Linked DNA regions of Homo sapiens. The protein of the gene in region 2 interacts with the protein of the main gene of each other region in a pairwise test. Each region holds a gene or a part of one and is shown on either strand. Other genes may lie near its edges.

Evidence for each region.
Region 1: the proteins of UPK2 (region 2) and FCGRT interact in binary tests that used the Homo sapiens proteins (3 or more experiments, as listed by UniProt).
Region 3: the proteins of UPK2 (region 2) and ZNRF4 interact in binary tests that used the Homo sapiens proteins (3 or more experiments, as listed by UniProt).

The regions. Positions count from the first base shown.
Region 1 is NC_000019.10:49,522,648-49,526,950, forward strand, and holds the end of FCGRT (IgG receptor FcRn large subunit p51 isoform 1 precursor), read left to right. Parts: intron 1-1,859; coding exon 1,860-2,129; intron 2,130-2,809; coding exon 2,810-2,926; intron 2,927-3,362; coding exon 3,363-3,472; 3' UTR 3,473-3,781; downstream 3,782-4,303. UniProt on the Homo sapiens protein: Cell surface receptor that transfers passive humoral immunity from the mother to the newborn. Binds to the Fc region of monomeric immunoglobulin gamma and mediates its selective uptake from milk.
Region 2 is NC_000011.10:118,952,079-118,959,086, forward strand, and holds UPK2 (uroplakin-2 precursor), read left to right. Parts: upstream 1-4,219; 5' UTR 4,220-4,272; coding exon 4,273-4,348; intron 4,349-4,804; coding exon 4,805-4,936; intron 4,937-5,129; coding exon 5,130-5,268; intron 5,269-5,519; coding exon 5,520-5,590; intron 5,591-6,018; coding exon 6,019-6,155; 3' UTR 6,156-6,481; downstream 6,482-7,008. UniProt on the Homo sapiens protein: Component of the asymmetric unit membrane (AUM); a highly specialized biomembrane elaborated by terminally differentiated urothelial cells. May play an important role in regulating the assembly of the AUM.
Region 3 is NC_000019.10:5,451,370-5,457,378, forward strand, and holds ZNRF4 (E3 ubiquitin-protein ligase ZNRF4 precursor), read left to right. Parts: upstream 1-4,047; 5' UTR 4,048-4,122; coding exon 4,123-5,412; 3' UTR 5,413-5,487; downstream 5,488-6,009. UniProt on the Homo sapiens protein: E3 ubiquitin-protein ligase that acts as a negative regulator of NOD2 signaling by mediating ubiquitination and degradation of RIPK2. Also catalyzes ubiquitination and proteasomal degradation of CANX within the endoplasmic reticulum.

The sequences.
Region 1 (4,303 bases), on a different chromosome or scaffold from region 2:
GGTCTCGACCTCCTGACCTCGTGATCCTCCTGCCTCCACCCCCCAAAGCGCCAGGATTCTAGGTGTGAGCCACCACACCTGTCCTGAATCTATATTTATGAGAGACATTGGCCTTAAGCTCTCTTTTTTTTTTTTTTTTTTTTTTTTTGAGATGGAGTCTCGCTCTGTCACCCAGGCTGGAGTGCAGTGGCGCAATCTCGGCTCACTGCAAGCTCCGCCTCCCGGGTTCACGCCATTCTCCTGCCTCAGCCTCCCAAGTGGCTGGGACTACAGGCGCCGGCCACCACGCCCGGCTAATTTTTTGTATTTTTAGTAGAGATGGGGTTTCACCGTGTTAGCCGGGATAGTCTCAATCTCCTGACCTCGTGATCCGCCTGCCTCGGCCTCCCAAAGTGCTGGGATTACAGGCGTGAGCCACCGCGCCTGGCCAAGTTCTCTTTCTTATAATGTGCTTTGTTGTCAAGATGATGCTGACCTCATAAAATATGCTGGGAGAGTGTTTCCTCTGTTTTATGGCCTGAAGAGTTAGTGTAGGAATAGAATCATTTCTACATTGGAAGAATTCACTAATTGATGTCTTCTGGACCTGGAATTTTAGTTTTTGGAAAGTTTTAAACTATGGATTAAAAATTTTAAATAGGCCGGGTGTGGTGCATCATGCCTGTAATCCCAGCACTTTGGGAGGCTGAGGCAGGTAGATCACAATGTCAGGAATTTGAGACCAGCCTGGCCAATATGGTGAAACACCGTCTCTACTAAAAATAAAAAAATTACCCGGCATGGTGGTGCATGCACCTGTAGTCCCAGCCACTCGGGAGGCTGTGGAAGAAGAAACTCTTGAACCCAGGAAGTGGGGGTTGCAGTGAGTCGAGATCGTGCCACTGCACTCCAGCCTGGGTGACAGAGCGAGACTCTTATCTCAAAAACAAAAGGCTAGGCGTGGTGGCTCACACCTGTAATCCCAACACTTTGGGAGGCCCAGGCGGATGGATCATGAGGTCAGGAGATTGAGACCATCCTGGCTAAGACGGTGAAACCCCGTCTCTACTAAAAATACAAAAAATTAGCCAAGTGTGGTGGTGGGCACCTATAGTCCCAGCTACTCAGGAGGCTGAGGCAGGAGAATGGCGTGAACCCAGGAGGCGGAGCTTGCAGTGAGCCGAGATCGCGCCACTGCACTCCAGCCTGGGAGACAGAGCAAGATTCCATCTCAAAAAAAAAAAAAAAATTTAAATAGTTATAGGACTACAGACGTTTTAAATTTCCTCTTGTGTCAGTTTAGAAGGTTGTATTTATCAGGAATGTGTTCAGTTCATCTAAATTTTCAAATGTGTTGCTGTGGAATTTTTCATAATTATCCTCTATCTTTTTTTTTTTTTCTTTTTTTCTGAGACGGGGTCTCACTCTGTCGCCCAGGCTGGAGTGCAGTGGCACGATCCTGGCTCACTGCAACATCTGCCTCCCAGGTTCAAGCAATTCTCCTGCCTCAGCCTCCTGAGTAGCTGGGACTACAGGTGCCCGGCTAATTTTTGTATTTTTAGTAGAGATGGGGTTTCACCATGTTGGCCAGTGTGGTCTCGAACTCCTGACCTCAGGTGATCCACCCACTTTGGCCTCCCAAAGTGTTGCGATTACAGGCGTGAGCCAACATGCCCAGCCCAAGGAGGTGACATCTTGAGGGGACACCTTCGGGGTGGACAGGTTGAGTCTCTGTCACCTAGGAAGTGCCTCCCCTTTTACCACTGTATTATCTGCGGTTAGCACAGTGCAAACATGGAGGCCTCTTTCTGTCCCTATCCAGCCCTGGCTCTGGGAGTGGTGGGCTCGCGACTTAGGCCTGTCTGCCTGATTTCCTGCAGAGCCCCCCTCCATGCGCCTGAAGGCCCGACCCAGCAGCCCTGGCTTTTCCGTGCTTACCTGCAGCGCCTTCTCCTTCTACCCTCCGGAGCTGCAACTTCGGTTCCTGCGGAATGGGCTGGCCGCTGGCACCGGCCAGGGTGACTTCGGCCCCAACAGTGACGGATCCTTCCACGCCTCGTCGTCACTAACAGTCAAAAGTGGCGATGAGCACCACTACTGCTGCATTGTGCAGCACGCGGGGCTGGCGCAGCCCCTCAGGGTGGAGCTGGGTGAGGTCCCGCCAGGTGGTGATGCTCCTGGTTTCCCGTTGCCTTGTCTCACTGCTGCGCCGGTCCTTCCTGAGTCTGACCTTCCTCCCCACTGCTGCCACCTCCTTGAATCTGACTGCCTTGAACCTCACGCCTGTCAGTGCCCCCAAAACCTGATGGCTTGTCCTTCCCAAGGCCAACTGCCTTCCGTCTCCTGCTGCTTCTGGCCTCACTGAGTCTGAAGAGCTGTTAACTACCATGGCCAGTCCTCCCTGAGTCTGACCATCTTCCATCCTGCTGCTGCTGCTGCTGCTGCTGCGGGTCTTCCTGGAATCTGACCATTCGTTGTCTGCTATGCCCGTCCTCACCAAGACTGACTGCCTGCTGCTTTGCTACTGCCCGGGCCCATGAGACTGACTTCCCACTGCTCTGCCTGCCTCTCCCCACTGCACTGGCACAGCCCCGCCTTGCCGCTGCTGATCCATTGCCGGTGTGACCGCGGCCGCTCGTGCTGTAGCTGGTTCTTACGTCCAACCTGGGGGCAGTCTGCCCAGATCGCCTGCCTGGCCTCGCCTCTGCCCATCAGACACTTGGTGCTGGAATCTCCGAGGCTGGGAGGGACTGGGAGCGCCCCAGTTCTGTGTCCTGACTGGGTGGGGTGGAGGGGCTGCTCCACATCTCACAGCGTTCTCTGGCTGCAGAATCTCCAGCCAAGTCCTCCGTGCTCGTGGTGGGAATCGTCATCGGTGTCTTGCTACTCACGGCAGCGGCTGTAGGAGGAGCTCTGTTGTGGAGAAGGATGAGGAGTGGGCTGCCAGGTGGGGGGCAGCGGGAGGAAGAGCCTCTGAGAGAGGGACAGAGACCCCAAGAGAGGGGCACACAGACCTGGGAGGACAGAGACCCAGAGAGGGGGGACAGAGATCAGAGAGAGGTGGAGACAGAAACCCAGAGATGGGAGAACAGAGGTGCAGAGAGAGGGGGACGGAGACAGAGACCCAGAGACGGGGGAACAGAGACCCAGAGGGGACAGAGAGAGGTGCGGACAGAGGGAGGGGGAGACAGACCCAGAGGAGGGAGGCAAAGATGTAGAAAGAGGGGGGACGGAAAATTGGGAGAAGGGGAGACAAAGGCCCAGAAGGAAGGGGATAGAGACTGAGGAAGAGTGTGTGAGACACACACACAAATGGGGGACGCCAGTCAGACCCAGAGCGCCTCAGAGATTCTGATGACCTCTCCCTCTCTCTCTCTCCTCAGCCCCTTGGATCTCCCTTCGTGGAGACGACACCGGGGTCCTCCTGCCCACCCCAGGGGAGGCCCAGGATGCTGATTTGAAGGATGTAAATGTGATTCCAGCCACCGCCTGACCATCCGCCATTCCGACTGCTAAAAGCGAATGTAGTCAGGCCCCTTTCATGCTGTGAGACCTCCTGGAACACTGGCATCTCTGAGCCTCCAGAAGGGGTTCTGGGCCTAGTTGTCCTCCCTCTGGAGCCCCGTCCTGTGGTCTGCCTCAGTTTCCCCTCCTAATACATATGGCTGTTTTCCACCTCGATAATATAACACGAGTTTGGGCCCGAATCAGTGTGTTCTCATCATTTTTCAGGCAGGGGAGGTAAGGGAATAAGTCGGGGGACTGAATGGCGGCTGGGCCTCGGATCTCTCCTACAGGTAACATGCTGCCACAGGGGAACCTGCCAGTTTTATACATCAGGTCATGTATTTTCTTTTTCTTTTTCTTTTTTCTTTTTTTTTAGACGGAGTCTTGCTCTGTTGCTCAGTCCGGAGTCCTGTGGCGCGATCTCGGCTCACTGTAAGCTCCGCCTCCCTGGGTTCACGCCATTCTCCTGCCTCAGGCTCCCGAGTAGCTGGGACTACAGGCGCCTGCCACCATGCCTGGCTAATTTTTTGTATTTTTAGTACAGACGGGGTTTCACCATGTTAGCCAGGATGGTCTCGATCTCCTGACCTCATGATCCACCCGCCTCTGCCTCCCAAAGGGGTGGGATTACAAGTGTGAGCCACCGCGCCCGGCCTAAGGTCACTTTTTTTTTTTTTTTTTAAGACAGAGTTTTGCTCTTGTTGCTCAGACTGGAGTACAATTGCGTGATCTCAGCTCACTGCAACCTCCGCCTCCCAGGTTCAAGCAATTCTCCTGCCTCCCAAGTAGCTGGGATTACAGGCATGCACCACCACAC
Region 2 (7,008 bases):
TAATCTGCCCGCCTCAGCCTCCCAAAGTGCTGGGATTACAGGCGTGAGCCACCGTGCCCAGGCTTTTTTTTTTTTTTTTTTAATAGAGAAGAGATGTCACTATATCACCCAGGCTGGTCTTGAACTCCTGGGCTCAAGCAATCTTCCCACCTTGGCTTCCCAAAGTGCTGGGATTACAGGCTGTGAGCCACAGCGCCTGGCCATAATTTTTTTTTCAGTTTTGTAGAGATGGAGCCTTGCTGCGTCACAAGGCTGGTCTCAAACTCCAGGTCCCAAGTGATCCTCCTACTTCAGCCTCCCAAAGTGCTGAGATGACAGGCATGTGTCACTGTGCCTGGTGAGTCTGCCATTTTTTATTTCATTTTATTGAGATGGAGTCTCACTCTGTTGCCTAGGCTGGAGTGCAGTGGCATGATTTCAGCTCACTGCAAGTTCCACCTCCTGGATTCAAGCGATTCTCCTGCCTCAGCCTCCCAAGTAGCTGGGATTACAGGCATGCATCACCACACCCGGCTGATTTTTGTATTTTTAGTAGAGACAGGGTTTCACCATGTTGGCCAGGCTGGTCTCAAACTCCTGACCTCAGGTAATCCACCCGCCTCGGCCTCCCAAACTGCTGGGATTACAGGCGTGAGCCACCGCACCTGGCCAAGTCTTCCATTTTAAATGTGAGAACATTGAAGTCCACCTAAAGTTACATGGTATCTCATCAACAAGAGGACAGTAGCTGCCATCAGAGGCTGACATGGCCATGCAGCCAAGTAGACATGTTTTTCTAATTGACTGGGAGGCAGAGAGTGGCACTCTGGAAGGAGAACCCTGGGCATGTCAGACGGACCTGGGTTCTGATCCCAGCTCTCCTGGTTGAAGAACTGCCATAGTTCAAGTGAAAAAAAAAAAAAAAAAAAAAAGGTGCCACAGTCCAGAAAGAAGTTTGTTTTAGGAGATAGTCTTCTAGGCTGAGCAGACTAGAGCTGTTAAGAGCTCCCTGAGGGCAGAGACTTATCTTACCTTTATATCCCTGGTGGCTAGTGCAGTTCCAAGGACATAGTTGGTACGCAATAGGAGTGCTTGAATAGGAGATTTGGAAGAGAGGAGGCAGGGGAGGGAACTCAAGAGAGTTTAGAATCAAGAATCCAAGGAGGAGACAGCCTAGAAAGAGTGGGTCCAAGACAGAGACTTCAGGCATGTGGCCCTGGTTCCCTTACTCCAAGCCATTGGGAAATCCTCCAGAGGAACATGGTGCTGTGGCTTTAACTGACTTCAGCATTGTCAATGAATCTGCTCTGCTAAAAGAGTTATCCTCTTGCTCCTGGGCTTGGCCTCCCCCTCCTCTCAGCTCCCCAAACCCTTCTCGGCTGCTGTGATGGGATAATTAGATGCGAGAGCTCAGCACAGATGATGCTCCAGTTGCTTAGCAACTAATGGTTTCCATGGAGACCGCAAAGCACAGCCTCCAGAGCAGCCAGTGAGCAGCTCGGCAGGGCAGGGAGAAGACGCAACTCCCCGCTCCTCCAGAAACCTGGGGAGGGCTGGGGTGGGGAAGGTGGGGGGGGGGGATTGGAGGGAGAAGGGAGAGCTTAAAGGCACAGGGCCCTCTTATCCCTTTAAAATCTGATCAGAGATCTGCCCTCCCCTACTCCACTCTGTACCACTCATAATTTTAGATGGGGATGGGGGCTTAAGAGTGGACCCAACTCAACCCACCCTGCAATAAACCCAACCTCTTCTTTCTGCTTCTTGGTTGTGAATGAGGAGAAAGACCTCCCAGTTCAAGTGTAAACAACTTACTGGTGGGTGACAGGTTTTGAGGAGTACCAGGAAGATCCCCTCACCCTGGCATTCCACCATTTAATCTGTCCCCTCTCTCCCAAGTTGTCCTTAATGTGCAAGAGACCCTCTTTCCATTTGTGCAGTGGTGGTGGAATCAAAAGCCAAGGTGCAGGAAAAACAGAACCAAATTCTTCACCCAAAAGCAGCCTGTTCGGGCAGATTGGGAAGGAACACCTGCCCTGATCCCTGATGTCCGTGGAAGAGGATCCAGCTGGGGGTGGGGATGCTGTTTACCAATACAGAGCAGCTGGCAACTTCAAGTGTGGGCCTTTCAGACCGGCATCATCAGTGTTACGGGGAAGTCACTAGAAATGCAGAATTGATTGGGCACGGTGGCTCACACCTGTAATCCCAACACTCTGGGAGGCCAAGGCGGGTGGATCACTTGTGGTCAGGAGTTTGAGACCAGCCTGGCCAACATGGTGAAACCTCATCTCTACTAAAAATGCAAAAATTAGCTGGGAATGGTGGCACATGCCTATAATCCCAGTTACTCAGGAGGCTGAGGCAGGAGAATCGTTTGAACCTGGGAGGCAGAGGTTGCAGTGAGCCGAGATCACGCCACTGCACTCCAGCCTGGGTGACACAGCGAGACTCTGTCTCAAAAAAAAAAAAAAATGCAGAATTTCAGGCTTCACCCCAGACCCACTGCATGACTGCATGAGAAGCTGCATCTTAACAAGATCCCTGGTAATTCATACGCATATTAAATTTGGAGATGCACTGGCGTAAGACCCTCCTACTCTCTGCTTAGGCCCATGAGTTCTTCCTTTACTGTCATTCTCCACTCACCCCAAACTTTGAGCCTACCCTTCCCACCTTGGCGGTAAGGACACAACCTCCCTCACATTCCTACCAGGACCCTAAGCTTCCCTGGGACTGAGGAAGATAGAATAGTTCGTGGAGCAAACAGATATACAGCAACAGTCTCTGTACAGCTCTCAGGCTTCTGGAAGTTCTACAGCCTCTCCCGACAAAGTATTCCACTTTCCACAAGTAACTCTATGTGTCTGAGTCTCAGTTTCCACTTTTCTCTCTCTCTCTCTCTCTCAATTTTCTGAGACAGAGTTTCACTTAGTTGCCCAGGCTGGAGTGCAGGGGCACAATCTCGGCTCACTGCAACCTCCACCTCCTGGGTTCCAGTGTTTCTCCTGTCTCAGCCTCCCGAGTAGCTGGGATTACAGGCACACACCACCGCGTTAGTTTTTGTATTTTTGGTAGAGATGGTGTTTCGCCATATTGGCCAGGCTGATCTCGAACTCCTGACCTCAGGTGATCCGCCCACCTCGGCCTCCCAAAGTGCTGGGATTACAGGCATGAGCCACCACGCCCGGCTGATCTCTTTTCTATTTTAATAGAGATCAAACTCTCTGTGTTGCCTAGGCTGGTCTTGAACTCCTGGCCTCGAGTGATCCTCCCACCTTGGCCTCCCAAAGTGCTGGGATTACAGGCATGAGCCACTGTGCCTGGCCTCAGTTCTACTACAAAAGGAAGCCAGTACCAGCTACCACCCAGGGTGGCTGTAGGGCTACAATGGAGCACACAGAACCCCTACCCAGGGCCCGGAAGACGTCCTGACTCCTCTCCCCTCCCTCTGCTCAGAACTCCTCTGCTTCTTTCTGATGTAGCCCAGGGCTGGAGGAGGCAGTCAGGGAAGTTCTGTCTCTTTTTCATGTTATCTTACGAGGTCTCTTTTCTCCATTCTCAGTTCAACAAATGGTTGCTGCCCAAGGCTGACTGTGCCCACCCCCAACCCCTGCTGGCCAGGGTCAATGTCTGTCTCTCTGGTCTCTCCAGAAGTCTTCCATGGCCACCTTCGTCCCCACCCTCCAGAGGAATCTGAAACCGCATGTGCTCCCTGGCCCCCACAGCCCCTGCCTCTCCCAGAGCAGCAGTACCTAAGCCTCAGTGCACTCCAAGAATTGAAACCCTCAGTCTGCTGCCCCTCCCCACCAGAATGTTTCTCTCCCATTCTTACCCACTCAAGGCCCTTTCAGTAGCCCCTTGGAGTATTCTCTTCCTACATATCAGGGCAACTTCCAAACTCATCACCCTTCTGAGGGGTGGGGGAAAGACCCCCACCACATCGGGGGAGCAGTCCTCCAAGGACTGGCCAGTCTCCAGATGCCCGTGCACACAGGAACACTGCCTTATGCACGGGAGTCCCAGAAGAAGGGGTGATTTCTTTCCCCACCTTAGTTACACCATCAAGACCCAGCCAGGGCATCCCCCCTCCTGGCCTGAGGGCCAGCTCCCCATCCTGAAAAACCTGTCTGCTCTCCCCACCCCTTTGAGGCTATAGGGCCCAAGGGGCAGGTTGGACTGGATTCCCCTCCAGCCCCTCCCACCCCCAGGACAAAATCAGCCACCCCAGGGGCAGGGCCTCACTTGCCTCAGGAACCCCAGCCTGCCAGCACCTATTCCACCTCCCAGCCCAGCATGGCACCCCTGCTGCCCATCCGGACCTTGCCCTTGATCCTGATTCTGCTGGCTCTGCTGTCCCCAGGGGCTGCAGGTCTCTTCCATCTCTGGCAGGGGTGGGAAGGGGGCTGGGGGCCTGGACAGGGAGCACTGTACCTTCCAGGGCTCTCAAAGAGAGGTCTGGACAGTTGGGAGTCAGGGCTGGTGATGGCAGTGACTGGGTATCAGACACTGGGCTCAGGGTACACTCCTGATCCTCCTCCAGACCTAGGAGGCAGAGAGGTGTGGGCAAGGATCCGATGCTGCGGGGAGGGGTGAGGTTGGGCGCTGCCCGACTCCTGGCATCCAGGTTCTGGCTCTGGGGACCGCTTGGTGGAGGGTGCAGCTTCTGCAGCCCAAGCCTGCCACCTGGTGGTCATACTGGCACAGGCCTGGCTGTTCTGCCCAGGGTTCACAGAGTGGAAAGGGAGATGGCTCCAATGGGACCGGGCCAGATCTGTTGGCCAGGAGGGGTCAGTCCCCATCGGAGCTCCCTCCTGCCTCCCATCAGACTTCAACATCTCAAGCCTCTCTGGTCTGCTGTCCCCGGCGCTAACGGAGAGCCTGCTGGTTGCCTTGCCCCCCTGTCACCTCACAGGAGGCAATGCCACACTGATGGTCCGGAGAGCCAATGACAGCAAAGGTCTGCTACCTTCTCCCAAGGCATCCCTCTAGTCCCCAAAGACCCCTTCCTGCGACACCCTCTGCACCCTTTTCCCCATTCATGCCTTCCTGTCCACCCGTCTCCTGGGGTACCCACACTCTAAAAGCTGCCCCTTCTCCTTGGGGCCTCCAGAAACTTGACCCAGTCTTCCCCTCCCGCCACTTCTGCCCAGTGGTGACGTCCAGCTTTGTGGTGCCTCCGTGCCGTGGGCGCAGGGAACTGGTGAGTGTGGTGGACAGTGGTGCTGGCTTCACAGTCACTCGGCTCAGTGCATACCAGGTGACAAACCTCGTGCCAGGAACCAAATTCTAGTAGGTACTGGGTCCAGCCTGAGGCACCTAGGGAAGGGGGTGCAGGAAGAGAGAGAAGCTAGTGTGGGGGAGATCTGGTGGGCATGAGGAGAGGGTGAGGGCACAGCAAAAGGGGGTGAAAGCTGGGCCTCTTGGAGGAGTGCACATAGGGGAGACACAGCTGTGAGGGTAGGTGGCCCAGGCTGGAGCCCCTCTTCCTGTAAGTCCCAATACTCACTGAGGGTTCTCTACTCTCTCCCAAACCACAAAAGCATTTCCTACCTAGTGAAGAAGGGGACAGCCACTGAGTCCAGCAGAGAGATCCCAATGTCCACACTCCCTCGTAAGTAACACTCCCGCCTCCCTTTCCCATCTCAGCGGCCACAAACGCTTCCCTGACCATTCCTGCCTCATCCCCAGTCTGGGTTGCCTGTGCCTCCCCGTGCGCCCTCGGGGCCCCTGCTTACCTCTATCCTAGCACGGAACCTTCGGCATGGCTACTGCACACTCAGCTAAAGGTTCCTCGTGGGCAGGGACTGTGTCCTCTTAACTTTTCCTCAGCGGCTGACATAGGAGATGCTTCATAAATGTCTATGTGATGGGTGTTTGGATCCATCAGCTGGTTGGTTGGTTGGTTGGTTGGCTGGCTGGCTGGCTGGCTGGCTGGCTGGTTGGTTGGGCAGTCTGTTGGCTGGATGAGTGTGAGGCCGTGAGCCTCAGGCAGGCTGGGGGTCTCTCCCGCCCACAGTGGTCTCCCCTCTCTTTTGACAGGAAGGAACATGGAATCCATTGGGCTGGGTATGGCCCGCACAGGGGGCATGGTGGTCATCACGGTGCTGCTCTCTGTCGCCATGTTCCTGCTGGTGCTGGGCTTCATCATTGCCCTGGCACTGGGCTCCCGCAAGTAAGGAGGTCTGCCCGGAGCAGCAGCTTCTCCAGGAAGCCCAGGGCACCATCCAGCTCCCCAGCCCACCTGCTCCCAGGCCCCAGGCCTGTGGCTCCCTTGGTGCCCTCGCCTCCTCCTCCTGCCCTCCTCTCCCCTAGAGCCCTCTCCTCCCTCTGTCCCTCTCCTTGCCCCCAGTGCCTCACCTTCCAACACTCCATTATTCCTCTCACCCCACTCCTGTCAGAGTTGACTTTCCTCCCATTTTACCACTTTAAACACCCCCATAACAATTCCCCCATCCTTCAGTGAACTAAGTCCCTATAATAAAGGCTGAGGCTGCATCTGCCACATGTGTTTCCCTTTAGTGGGCTCTACCTTGGCTCAAACCTGTGGAATCTATGTCCAAGCTGCAGGTGCTCCTGGTCCCCTCCCTGCCCCACAGCCCAGAGTTACTTTTCCCATGAGGCAGGCAGGGGCCAGTAAGAGCCCAGCAGTCAGAGTTCTCAGAGACACACCGGGGCTGTGGGTTTGGCAGCATCCACAGTACACAGTGGGCCACTCAACTAGGGGTGCAGGTCAGGGCAGAAGCTGGGGCTGGTGCCCCATGTGGAGGCCTGGAGGCCTGGGGGTGGGGGTGGGGGGCAGGCAGAGCAAGGGAAGTGCTAGGGAAAAGAGGAGAGGATCTGTCTGGGAAAAGACAGGCCAGGTGCAGTGGCTCATGCCTGTAATCCCACCACTTTGGGAGGCCAAGGCGGTCAGCTGGCTTGAGGTCAGGAGTTTGAGACCAGCCTGGCCAACATGATGAAACCCCGTCTCTACTAAATATTAAAAAAAAAAAAATAGCCAGGTGTTCGGGCAGGTGCCTATAACCCCAG
Region 3 (6,009 bases), on a different chromosome or scaffold from region 2:
GGCTTTGTAGTCCTAGTGAGTCTGGTCCCCTGTCACAGACTCAGTTTCCCCCCTCTAGAAGATGGGGTGTCCACAGGAACCTGGCCCTGGATGCAGGGGGTCAGCGGAGTTTCCCGCAAGGCACGGTCACAGGCTGCAGGCTGCATTGCTCAGTGGCAGTGCTGGTGGCTCCTGCCATCCCCGAGTGCCCCCCTCCTCTGGGGCTCAGTTTCCCCATTTGGCCACACTCCCCCTTAGACAAACACAGACGGGGCGCCACCTGGCTGGGCAGGAGGGGGCCTCGGCAGCTTCTCACGAAGAACAGCAGCCAAGGTGGGGGCTGGCGGGGCTGGCACAGGCCGGCCTCGTTAAGCTGCCAGTCCTTGGCACCACTCTGCTTTCGTGGAGGCGTCTGGAGAAGGGCCCAGGCCTGGCTGTTGGGGGACTGAGGAAGCTGGGATGAAGCTGAGACCCTTTTTCAGAGGGGGCAGGCCCTGAGTGATGGCAAGGAGTTCTATGTTCACTTATTAAGCATCTACTGGATGCCAGACCAGGCTACTCAGGCAGGGCGTTTGCCCGTGCTGTTCTAGCTGCCAGGATCGCGTTTCCTGTTCATAGCACTATCCACTGCTCATTCTGATCTCAGTCTAGAAGACACCACCTCCAGGAAGCCTTCTAGATTCTCTAGAATAAGCCAGGTGCGGCCGGGCGCGGTGGCTCATGCCTGTAATCCCAGCACTTTGGGAGGCCGATGCGGGCGGATCACGAGGTCAGGAGATCGAGACCATCCTGGCTAATGCAGTGAAACCCCGTCTCTACTAAAAATACAAAAAATTAGCCGGGCATGGTGGTGGGCGCCTGTAGTCCCAGCTACTCGGGAGGCTGAGGCAGGAGAATGCCGTGAACCTGGGAGGCAGAGCTTGCAGGGAGCTGAGATGGTGCCACTGCACTCCAGCCTGGGCGACACAGCGAGACTCCGTCTCAAAAAAAAAAAAAAAAAAAAGAATAAGCCAGGTGCCTCCCTTTGGGTTGGCACGGTGCCTGAGTTTTCCCCATCACAGTTTGATCACTCAATATTTTATTTTTAGAGGTGGGGTCTTGCTCTGTGGCCCGCTGCTGGAGTGCCACAGCATGATCAGAGCTCACTGCAGCCTCAAACTCCCAGGCTCAAGCGATGTTCCCGCTTCAGCCTCCCGAGTAGCTGTGATCACCCAATATTATAACTGGGCTGTGGGCAGGTCACTTAGGCCATCAACAAATGCAAACAGAGCACTTCGTACGTGGTAGGCACTATGCTTAGCACCGTCCATGCTCAGCGAACCCCGCAGTGCAGGTGCTGATGCTGCCTCCTCTTTACAGAAGGGGCAACTGAGGCTCACAGTGGCTGAATGGTGGAGTGAAGCCACATGGCCTGGAGTCTGGTGCACAGAAGGGCCCGGGAAAAGCTCATTTCCATCCCCAGGGACAGTGAGCTCACTCACCACTGAAGGAGGCCTAAGCTGGAGGTGTGGGGATTCATTCATTCAACAAATATGTATTGGGCAGCCATTGAAGGCCAGGTTACTCAAGTGTGTCCGAGTGACAGGTGGTGTTGGACGCCTCCAACATCTGTTGTCTTGTCCTCCATAGTAATAGAAGCCCTGGTTTTCAGCTGCACAGTTGGCCATTCAGAATAAATACTACATTTCCCAGCAAGCTTTCTGCCAGGCATGGCCACGTGACTAATTCTGGCCAATGCAGTGTGAGCAGAAGTGGTGCCTGGGATTTCCAAGAAGTGTCCTTAAAGGGACAGGGTGAGCTCTTCCTCACTCTTTCCTCCTCATTGCCTGGGAGGCAGATGTGATGGCTGGAGCTCACGCACCTGCCTTGTCCCACGAGGAGGAGGCCATTTACTGAGGATATGGTGGATGGAAGGAGTCTGGGCTGCAGACACCCCAGCATCTCCATGCCATCCCAGGAATGACTACTCACATTCCACATTCAGAAGCAAATCAGCCCTGTACGCCTACACCGCTGTGGTTGGGTCTTGCTTACCACAGCCAACCCGAGCCTGACCGCTACATTTGTCCCTCTCTGCTTCTGTTTTTCCACTCTTGCCTCCTCTCATGCCTGCTGGACTGAAAAACCTGCCTCTGCTTGGTAGCACTGGGCTGCAAGGGCCATCCACAGTGGCCAAGGCAGTGGCCTCTAGATAGTGTGGCCTCCGTCTGTGGCAGTAGACAGAGCAGGGGCAGGAGTGCCACCAGGGGCCGGGCATGGTGGCTCACAAATGTAACCCCAGCACTTTGGGAGGCTGAGACTGGCAGATCACTTGAGGTCAGGAGTTCGAGACAAGCCTGGGCAACCTAGCAAAACCCCCGTTTCTATTAAGATACAAAAATTAGCCGGGCATGGCAGCATGTGCTCGTGGCCTCAACTGATCTGCCCGCCTCGGGCTCCTAAAGTGCTAGGATTACGGACATGAGCCACCATGCCCGGCCTTTTCTCCCTTTCTTAGAAGGAAAACCTCTGCAAAGATCTTATTTCCAAATAAGGTCCATTCACAGGGGTTGGTCAGAACCAGGGGTTAGGGGTTCAACATCTCTATTTGGGGCCCACCCACTACATGGTACAAGAGATTTGTGTGGGAGGTGATCTCAGAAGCTGTGGGAGGGGAGAGAAGTGGGTGGGGAAGGGAAGGAGACAGTAGCGGGCTCATTGACAAGACAGTACTGGGTTCGTTGACTTATGGAGCTCATTCGACTGGGGACCTCTAGGAGATATGGTAGAACATACTTCGATTTGTCCCATAAGAGGGACGAGGGAGTGGGGGCATTTATCTACCACCTCCCATCTGTCACTGGCTGAGGGCTGCTCTGAGAGGTATTAGGCCAACACAGAAAATCTAAAGACTAAGTAGTCAGCCTGGCAAAGTGAAGTTGAGGAGCAAGAATTCTGTTCCAGGCAGAGGGAACAGCATTTGCAAAATTCTAGAGGTGAACAAAGCAAGATGCCTCTGGGACATTGCAAATCATCCAGGCTTCAGAGATTGGCAGGCGCCCAACCACAGGGGTGCATGTAGGCCACAGAGAAGAGTGTGGGCTTTATCTGGAGGGCAATGGGGAGCCATGGGAGAGTTTAGAGCATGGGAAAGACTATGTTACAGGTCTGGAAGCTGAGGCCCAGAGAGGCTAAGGAATTTAGCTGATGTCATACAGCTTATGAATGGCAGAGACAGAAATCCGACTTGAGTGGGCTGCAGACAGATTGAGGGTGTGAAATTTGGGGGATGGGGACTGGGGAGGAGGTGAGGCTGATGCCCAGGGCTGAAGCTCAGGCAGGGGGCACAGTTGGAGACCCAGCTGGAGAGGCAATGCTATAGGGAGAGAGAATGAAGCTGGTGCAAGCCTGGAGGCCAACCTGGCGGTGCGGACTTGGGACCACTGACCCCCACCAGCCCCACCCTGACCCTGGCACTTGACTCTCCCTCCAAATCAAGTCCAGGAGGGCTCTGAGGATATATGGACTCAGACCTGAGTCCGGATAAAAGAGCCAGCTACGGAGAGAAAGGGCTTTCCAGGCAGGAGGCCCAGCCCATGCAAAGGCCCTGGGGCAGGATCCTGCCTGGTGTGTTGGAGGAACAGCAAGGAGATCTGTGTGGCTGGAGCAGAGTGAGGGATGGTGACAGGGGGTCAGGAATTTGGGTTTTAAGCACTGATCTCATTGTAGGGGGGCGTGGCTTGAACAAGTCTGGGTCACTCTTGGAGTCTCAGACAAGGGTAACATTGAACCTTCTACAGTGTGTTGCTAGGAACCTCCAGAAGCTGATGCTGGTAGCGTCTTCGCACAGTGAGGGCTGAATCTGCACTGCTGGGGGCCGGCAGCCCTTTTGAAGCATCCCTGGGCCTCCTTGGGTCCAAAGATACCCTGAGCCTTCAAGAAGTTATCTCAAAGCTTGCCCGGGTACCGGCAAATCACAGACCTAGGAATGATCCATTGGCCACAGGCCCAGGCAGCTGGCAGCTCCTGGGACAGAATGTAGCAGGGCGATGTCACAGAAGCTGGGGGCATCTAGAACCCTGGTGACTCCTGGTCTCCATGTCATCTGCCAGAAAGGCCACCTGCGCCAGCACCTCCTGAGACCGGCCTTCAAAGACACGACGCATGCCGCTCTGCCGTCCGGAGCACTTAATGCCTAGAGCCAGCAGGGTCCCAGTGGCCGCGTCACTGCCTCTGAGCCACGCGGTCATTCCAACTCAACTGCCCTCGCGTCCTGGCCACAGGCCCCCTGGGAGACCCCGGAGATGCCCAAAGGCCTCATGCCTGCCGCCTCCAGTGGGACCTAGCAGCACACAGACAGCGAAGCGGGTGACCATGGGGTGGCCACGGCCGGGCCGAGCCCTCGTGGCAGTCAAAGCCTTGCTGGTCTTGTCGCTGCTCCAGGTGCCCGCGCAGGCAGTGGTACGGGCCGTGCTGGAAGACAACTCGAGCTCGGTGGACTTTGCGGATCTGCCGGCGCTGTTCGGCGTCCCCCTGGCCCCCGAGGGCATACGGGGCTACCTGATGGAGGTCAAGCCAGCCAACGCGTGCCATCCCATCGAGGCCCCGCGACTGGGCAACCGCTCTCTGGGCGCCATCGTGCTGATCCGCCGCTACGACTGCACCTTCGACCTCAAGGTGCTGAACGCCCAGCGCGCCGGCTTCGAGGCGGCCATCGTGCACAACGTCCACTCCGACGACCTCGTGAGCATGACCCACGTCTACGAGGACTTGAGGGGCCAGATCGCCATCCCCTCAGTGTTCGTGAGCGAGGCCGCCTCGCAGGACCTGCGGGTCATCCTGGGCTGCAACAAGTCGGCCCACGCGCTGCTCCTGCCCGACGACCCACCGTGCCACGACCTGGGCTGTCACCCCGTGCTGACCGTGTCCTGGGTGCTGGGCTGTACCCTGGCCCTGGTCGTATCAGCCTTCTTTGTCCTGAACCACCTGTGGCTCTGGGCCCAGGCCTGCTGCAGCCACAGACGGCCGGTGAAGACGTCTACCTGCCAGAAGGCCCAGGTCCGCACCTTCACGTGGCACAACGACCTGTGTGCCATCTGCCTGGATGAGTATGAGGAGGGCGACCAACTCAAGATCCTGCCCTGCTCCCACACCTACCACTGCAAATGCATTGACCCCTGGTTCTCCCAAGCCCCCCGGCGCTCCTGCCCCGTGTGCAAACAGTCGGTGGCCGCCACAGAAGACAGCTTTGACTCCACCACCTACAGCTTCAGGGACGAGGACCCCTCCCTACCGGGCCACCGGCCCCCCATCTGGGCCATTCAAGTCCAGCTACGCTCCCGGAGGCTGGAGCTGCTGGGCCGCGCCAGTCCCCACTGCCACTGCAGCACCACGTCCCTGGAGGCAGAGTATACCACTGTCTCCTCAGCCCCTCCTGAGGCCCCTGGTCAGTAAAGATCTAGGGCAGGGAGGGGGGTGCAATGAGGAATGTTTCTGGTCTGAAAAGAATAAAGTGGGTTTGAAAGCGGATTCTCAGCCTCGCTGCTGTTGGGCCACCCGCCTCTGACTGGGGTTGGGGGACACCCATCCCCATCAAGCCTAAGGCCAATCCCCGTTTCTGCGGGCGGGAGAGCGAGGGGTGGTGAGGGCTGGGGGGCCTTTTTGGGGCGGCTGTGACCGTGGTGCCGGAGTGGCTTTGAGACGGGTCGTCTGTGCTTTGGTTCCAGTCCCGGGCACACGGGTCACTCATCCTGGATGGCCTTATTCTTCATTCACATTTTTTCTTTTAAAATAAACGTTTTATTTTGGAACTGGTTTAGATTTCCAGAAAAGTTGCAAAGGTGCCATAGAGTTCTCCAACCCCTTTTACTCCGTTTCCTCTTATGTCTCATGGGATCCCAGGTGTGATGGGATGGGAGGCCGAGGTGGGAGGTTCGCTCAAGGTTAGAGGTTTGAGACCAGCCTGGGCAACATAACAAGACCCCACCTCTACAAAAAAATTTTCTTAGGCCGGGCGTAGTGGCTTACGCCTGTAATCCCAGCACTTTAAGA